2 linked regions of the Homo sapiens genome follow. The protein of the gene in region 2 interacts with the protein of the main gene of each other region in a pairwise test. Each region holds a gene or a part of one and is shown on either strand. Other genes may lie near its edges. The genes, in order: CTNNA2 and ZNF639.

What was found.
Region 1: the proteins of ZNF639 (region 2) and CTNNA2 interact in binary tests that used the Homo sapiens proteins (3 or more experiments, as listed by UniProt).

The regions. Positions count from the first base shown.
Region 1 is NC_000002.12:79,511,025-79,514,944, reverse strand, and holds the start of CTNNA2 (catenin alpha-2), read right to left. Parts: upstream 1,895-3,920; 5' UTR 1,738-1,894; intron 1-1,737. UniProt on the Homo sapiens protein: May function as a linker between cadherin adhesion receptors and the cytoskeleton to regulate cell-cell adhesion and differentiation in the nervous system. Required for proper regulation of cortical neuronal migration and neurite growth.
Region 2 is NC_000003.12:179,325,814-179,329,733, forward strand, and holds part of ZNF639 (zinc finger protein 639), read left to right. Parts: intron 1-1,151; exon of another isoform or gene 1,152-1,531; intron 1,532-1,747; 5' UTR 1,748-1,818; intron 1,819-2,469; 5' UTR 2,470-2,480; coding exon 2,481-2,538; intron 2,539-3,804; coding exon 3,805-3,915; intron 3,916-3,920. UniProt on the Homo sapiens protein: Binds DNA and may function as a transcriptional repressor.

The sequences.
Region 1 (3,920 bases), on a different chromosome or scaffold from region 2:
CAAAACTGCATATTGCACTACTGTCATATAATAATTTAAATGAAAAGAAAAAAATCAATAATGTGTTCCACAGCATAGTGTCTTACTGGCAACTTCAAAGAATCCACCATTAATTTTGGTCCCTCACACATACTCCTTAAACACAAAACACAGCTATTCTAAAGATATTAAGGTTTTTTGGTCTGTTGTTTTAGGAGAATATAAATAGAACAAAATATAGGCTTCAAAATATCCATTTTTGATTTATACTTACACTGTTGGACCCTTCTGAGATGATAAATATGCTAAACATTCTGAGGCATGGCTGTCCCGCCATGTAAAAATAAACTTTACAGCAGCAATGCTAACAGAAAGAATTGTCAAATTGCCAATAACATGTATAATGTAAGGGGTTAGAATGCAAGCTGAAGAGAGCAAGGTAAATTATAGCATTCTGTGAAAATAAGTGATGTAAAACCAACAGCAATTTTAAATTATTAACAATGGTTCCGAAGCTAATTCAACTTTTCCATTGGTGTAAGCCACAAACAGAATCACACAGCATGTTTCTCTTTAAACATCTTCAGGGGTCCTACGAGGTGGGTGAAAATGGGTAAGGGTGTCTGTTAAAGGCTCTAATGCAGCTAATGCCATCTAAATGGTATATTTACAAGCCTGTGGAGTATAACCTCATTTCTCCAAAACTGTCTAACCATTATCCTACTTGAGAAGTTAACCCATGATGAACAAAAGTACCTCTCTTCCACCCTTCTGCTCCCTATTTTCCCAAACCTTTCTATCTTGGTATTTTGTATGCTGAGCAAAACATTCCATAAATAATGCTGTGGTGCACAGGCATTAAAGTTTAGAGAGTTTCTGCCTTTGAAGTAGGTAGTGACAGGACCAAGGACACACGGGTTCAATTCCAAGCCAAATATGAGGCGGGTGGTTTGAAAATGTCAAACCAAAGAGGCCTAGGGGAAAAGAACACAAGCTTCCACTGCCACCTCCCTTCCTCTCCCCTCCCCTTTTTCTCTCTTGTTCCTTTCCTCTCTTCTCCTTTTTCGTTGTGGTTTCTCACGGAGACAATCAAAGCAGGGAAGGCTGGATTTTAAATTGGTGAGACACACACTGGAAATATGTAATTCCCAGAAGAAAAAAAGAAACTGCTGAAGAGGGGTATGGGGGCTGTTGGCAGCATGTCCAAGTGACAACCCTCCCCACCCCCACCCTAATATAGCACAAATCCACAGATTCTTCTTCGATCCTCTTCTCCCTCCAGTTCCCAGTACTCTACCCAACTTGACCCTTCATCCTAAAAATTTAGGAATCTGCAGGGCACCCGCTGTTTAAGAGTGTGTCTCTCAGTATATGCACCCAATTTTCTGGAACCCCTGAATCCGGACAGTTGTAGCAGGCAAGGGATGCTCCCACCCTCCCACCGGGGAAGAGGTAAGAAAGGGGGGAAGAAGAGATGGAGACAAGAGGAAAGGGATGCAGAGCTGTGCTCTAGGGCGAGTGGCTGCAAGGAAGACGGGGAAGAAAGAAAGGGTGGGAAGGAAGTGGGGCTGGGAGAGAGGAAGAAAGGGATGAAAGAAAGGCTGGAAGGGAGAAAGGAGGGGAGAGGAGAGAGGGATGTTGGGAAGGATGAGGGAGGGAGGGTTGGGGAGCGGGGAGGGGGGAGGATGGAGAGGATGGGAGGGAGGTGGGGAGGGAGGGAGGCAGGCAGGGATGGAGGATGCTCTGCCCGGGACTCACCTCTGTGGGTCGGTGGGAGTTTCTCGCCTCCTCCTCTTTCTCGCCCGTTCCCAGCAGCTGGAGTGGTAATCACAGAAGGGACTGGAGAGGCGGCGGCAGGGACAAGGGCAGCAGCTGCTGCAGCCGCCTCTGGCCGAGGTGCGGTGCCGCCTGCTCTGCCCGCCCGCCTGGGTCTCCGCCTCACTCGGGGCTGGAAGCGAAGCCGCTCCCCCCTCCCCCCGCCCGCCCCGCGTCCTGCCCAAGCGCGAGCGGCAGCGGCCCGGATCGCCGCTAGGGGAGGCAGCCAGTGCGCATGCGCGGCCGCTTGCTCGCTCGCGCGCCCCCGCGGTCCCCGTGGCTCCGCGGCGCCTGGAAAGGCACCGGGCATCGAGGGGTGGCTGGGTGGGGGGCCGCGGGCGCGCGCGGCCTGGGGAGCGCCCGAAAGGGCGGGGCGGGGTAGGGCGGAGCTCTGGAGGCGCGGCAGGCTCGGCGCCGCAGGTGGGGGGAGGGGACGGCGGCGAAGGGGCACCGCCGTAGGGCGCAGGTGCCGTGTCCATGACAACCGCGTTACCCTGCGGGCGGGGACCCGGAGCTGAATCGCCGGAGTCGCGAGGCCCGGGGAGAGGGACCGGGTGCGGGAGCGGGCAGGATAGGGGCGGGGGGGATAGGGGTGTCGCAGAGTAGGAAAGGAGGGCCAGCCCAGCAGGGGTCCGACACGTGGCAGGAGGAGGGCAGGGCCAGAGTGCTGCAAAGGTAGTGACTGCCGCGGAAGGGAGGTTTGTTGGGATGTGGAGTCCCGAGGGGAGAGGAAGGGAGATTTGGACTTTAAAAGAACCTAGAAGAGGATGGAATTGTTAAAACAACTGGAATATTTGCTCATTTAACAAGCCTTTGTTGAATATTTTCTCCGTGGAAGGCATTGTGATTCTTTTCTTGATTCAGTGGATATTACTTGGCTCCTAGTTTGTACCAGACACTGTACTTAGGCATTTTGAGATATCCAAAAATGTTCGTCCTCTGAGAGGTTATACTGTAGTTGGGGAACTTACATAGCTAGGGCAGGGAGTGTTTGCGCCGCCAGCCATCGGCAGCTGGGACTCGATGTTGCTGGAATGTAACTGTTACAGAGGTGCTAACAGTGAAAAAGGTACACAGCTACATCAGATGAGAAATATAAGTTACAGTCATCTTTGTTCTGCCACAGTGCCAAATGACAATTTTGTTTTGTTTTAAATCAAGAGAGAGAAACAAAAAGAAAATCTGTGGAAGTTTAGTATGACACAACCGACGCTAAGTTCACAACATGCTACCTGTTTGGTATCCTAGTCCACTAGCATCAGTGCGTGTGTTCATGCCGACACTTGGATGGCTTTATGTCACTTAGTGCATGCATTTTTTAAATTCTCCTTCATCAATGGCTATGCCATTGATATTTTTCCCTCCCCCCTTTTGCTTCCAAGTTCGCGTCTGCAATTGTTTGAAAATTACATAAAATCCTACTATTTTTAATTCTCTCTAGGGAATGACTGGAGAGGGATACCTCTGTCCATGCCTCTATCTTTCTCTCCCAATATCTTTTTGGCTTTCTTTTTTCTTGTCCCCACCACTTTACCAATTTAAAAATTCCTGGGAAAAAGTGAACAGGAGTCACCGGATATTGGCTTAAGAAGAATCTTAGCACGCAACCATGTTTCAGGACCACGGACAGTGACACCGCGTGCTCTTACCACCTAGCGTTTTTCTTAGACTGCCTATAGAAACAGGAGAAACACGCTAAAGGCACACGATGTGCTTCATGAAGTGCCGAGCGCCAAATGATTTGTGCCAAAAGGTATAAAGAGTGGAGAATGAAAAGTGCATACTATGGACTGGAGTAGGTAGGAAGGAGGTAGGCCTTCAGCTGAATTTTGAAGCATGAATAAGATTTAGAGAGGCATCACAAGTCCCTGATGTGGTAAGATGTGGTAAGCACCAGCGAGGTGCTTAAATAAAAAGGGATACTGCATACAGTGTCATTCCAGAGGCAGAAGACACCTATGAATTTGAATGGTCCAAGAATCTGGAAAGAGTAAAGTTGTCCTAGTCAAATGAGGTAGAGCATGCACGTAAGAATTGACTTTTTAAAAAAATGATTATTGTGATCTTTTTCATACTCTGGTCAGGCCTGAGGGAATAAACTAAAAACTACAGGCCAAAGAGTGACC
Region 2 (3,920 bases):
GAGCTTGCAGTGAGCCAAGATAGCGCCACTGCACTCCAGCCTGGGCGAAAGAGCGAGACTCTGTCCGAAAAAAAAGTAAAAATAAAATAAACTGAAAAAGCACTATCTCATTCCCTGCTGTATTATATCACTTCAGTGCTGATATACCCAGAACTTAGTGAAGCAGCAAAAATAGTATGTGCACCTCAGCTAGAACACCTGTCATGTGTATCACCTTGGTGTTAAGAGCATTATAGGCCGGGCGCGGTGCCTCGTGCCTGTAATCCCAGCACTTTGGGAGGCTGAGGTGGGCGGATCACTTGAGGTCAGGAGTTCAAGACCAGCCTGGCTAACATAGTAAACCCCCGTCTCTACTAAAAATACAAAAATTAGCTGGGTGTGCTGGCGGGTACCTGTAATCCCAGCCTCCTGCTGGCGGGCGCCCGTAATCCCGGCCACTCAGGAGGCTGAAGCAGGAGAATCGCTTGAGCTGGGGAGGCAGAGGTTGCAATGAGCCAAGATCGTGCCACTGCACTCCAGCCTGGGTGACAGAGCAAGACTCCGTTTCAAATAAATAAATAGATTAATAAATAAAGTTGGGTAAACCTTTATTCAAATCCCAACCCCAGCATTTACTGAGTATCTAGCTTTGACTTTACTGTGCCTCAGTTTCCTCAATAACAGGAACTATAATTTTGAGAGGGTGATGTGAATTTTGCATCTCATACGATTACATAGGATTAAATGAGATAAAGTATGTTCACAGCCTGGTACATAATTGGTGGTCAGTAAATTATTATTATCACTTTTACTTTTTTCTTTTTTTGTTTTGTTTTGATTTTTTGTTTTTGAGAGAGAGTCTTGCTCTGTTGCCCAGGCTGGAGTGCAGTGGCACGATGTCAGCTCACTGTAGCCCTCCGCCTCCCAGGTTCAAGCCATTCTCCTGCCTCAGCCTCTTGAGTAACTGGGATTGCAGGTGCGCACCATCACACCCGGCTGATTTTTGTATTTTTAGCAGAGACGGGATTTCACCATATTGGCCAGGCTGGTCTCGATCTTTTATTTCTTAAATAAATAATCTATAAGGGCTGTAACAGTTTAAAGTTTATAATTTGGGCCAGGCAAGGTGACTCACGCCTGTAATCCCAGCACTTTGGGAGGCCCAGGTGGGTGGATCACCTGAGGTCAGGAGTTTGAGACCAGCCTGGCCAACATGGTGAAACCCCGTCTCTGCTAAAAATAGAAAAATTAGCCCGGTGTGGTGCCACATGCCTGTAATCCCAGCTACTTGGGAGGCTGAGGCAGGAGAATCGCTTTAACCCAGGAGGCAGAGGTTGCAGTGAGCTGAGATCGCGCCATTGCACTCCAGCCTGGGTAACAAGAGCAAAACTCGGTCTCAAAAACAAAAAGTTTATAATTTGGTTTGCTTTCATTATGCTTGCTTTCCTTATGGATGAATAAATTAATTCAGATTCATAGTCCTATTTTGGTGTCAAAAGATTTAACTATAGGTCAGGCATGAGACTGTCTCAAAAAAAAAGAACTATAGAAGGTAAATCATTTCAAAGAAATGTGGAAATTTGCATATAATCACATATTTATCAAGATATACAGTTTTTAGTATGTAGTACATTGTTTTCAAAATAATATATCTTAATTAGTTCTGTATAACTTTCCAATTGATTAAAGATCTGGTGCCATTGTATTATTCAGTACCAGAAATGAGCTGTATTTTTGCTTAATAACTTCTTTCATGTTTTACTTACAGGCATTTTTTACTGTCTACAGAAACTTATTGTAATTCATTTTTCCTCACTCCAGTAGTAAGAATTATACCAAGTAAGTGGACTGTATTGAAACTAATTAATTTTGTAACAGTTAATGAGAATTTAATTGGATAGTGGTTGCTGCATGTGTTGTGTTCTCAGTGGAACGTTGAATGTGACCTCATAAATAGGAAAATGATTTTTTTCTTGAAAATTATTTATATTCTGATCTGTGTGATGAGTACTTTTTTCTGGAAGCCAGGAGGCCGATACATATTTGTGACAATATTTTTTTAAAGGAAATGTCTCCGCCTTTAGCTTGAAAACTACCTAAAAATACTTCCAATGGTAGGAAATGTGCCTATAAAACTCCTAGTATGGTGCCATAGGCACAGTGTTTCTTTTTTTATATATACACAAAATAAAATGACTTAAACATGTGGTTTATTGTAATTATCCAGTTCTCACAATTTATATCAACATTTGAAAAAGAATTTTTTAACCTCCGTAAGAAAGAAAACAGAAATCAGTTTCTGCCTTGAAACCTGACTGGAAAACAATCTGAAATACAAACAGAGGCATCATTTAACACTTTTCTTATACCATAGATTTTCAGGTGGCTCACATATTTCATATTGCCAATAAATTCTTCAGTTAGAATTTTTATAACGTCATTAACAGTTGTTATTTGTGACATATTTGTTAATTTTTTCTCGTTTTTTAGATTGAAAAGATATGAATGAGTATCCTAAAAAAAGAAAAAGGAAGACTCTACACCCTTCTCGTTATTCAGGTCAGTGTATAATTATTTTAAAGTTGGGTATGGATTAATTCCCACAAAATTATATTCTCATCCATTTTCTCCTAAGTGATCAGATAAGACTTAAATATCTGGGTCAATATTTAGGTAAAACAACGGTTTAAATACATTATCTGAATATATATTCCTTATTGTCTACCATGTGCTAGGCACACATAAGAACTTTACAGACATTATATTATTCCTCACAGCTCTATGGGTTATAAATATTTAAAATTAGATAGCCAAGGTTATTTACTTATATAACATAATTGGGATTTGCATGTCTGATACCTAAGCTGTGCTTAAGACCCAATAATGACAACCTTGGTAGAAAATATTTTACATTATTGGGGAAAAAAGACTTTATCCTCTTTATTACTTTAGGAAATGTAAACTTTCATGCTGAATGTGTAATTTTTTTTTTTTTTTTTTTGAGACAGAGTCTCACTCTCTAGCCCAGGCTGGAGTGCCATGGTGTGATGTCAGCTCACTGCAACCTCTGCTTTCTGGGTTCAAGTGATTCTCCTGCCTCAGCCTCCCAAGTAGCTGGGATTACAGGCGTGTACCGCCACACCTGGCTAATTTTTTGTAGTGTTAAAGTAGAGATGGGGTTTCACCATGCTGCCCAGGCTGGATGACTGTGTAATTTTAGATCCTTTCATTGAGGTTGGCTCTGCTGTGTTGGCAGTATAAGAAAAGGGGTCTTTGTGGCCATCTCTAATACACCTCGCATACATTTACTTGGGACCATCTCAGTCTTACCTATTAGTCTACCCAGCCTACACATTCTTCATATCTGAAGAAATTAACCCTAGTATACTGCTTACTGGCCCTTCCTAGACAACACTTGAAATGACTATATTCAGAAGCCCTAAGTGGTCCTTACCATTTCCCCTATGTAACAACCTTTCTCTGCATGACATGGCACACCTTCCTGGTGTTTATTTCACTGTTTTGTGCAGTTAATACAGTGTTTATCATATATTTTTATTTTGTGTGATTCTGAGTATAAAACAAATGTATCCTTGTATATTTCAAAGTTGTTATGTTTTAGAGTATGTAATTTGTGGTTCTTTCAAAGTCCTATGTCAATATTGGATCTGAAATATAAAAGCTTTAAAAGTTGAAAATGTATAATATTTTCATTACAGATACTATAATTAACATTAAGAACATTTGTATAAGTTAGATAACGGGAAGTTTCTCATTAAATATGTATGTTTACTGTACTTGAAATATTTTTCATTTTATGTTCAGATTCCTCTGGAATAAGCAGAATTGCAGATGGATTCAATGGAATTTTCTCTGATCATTGTTACAGTGTCTGTTCTATGAGACAGCCAGATTTAAAATATTTTGACAACAAAGGTATA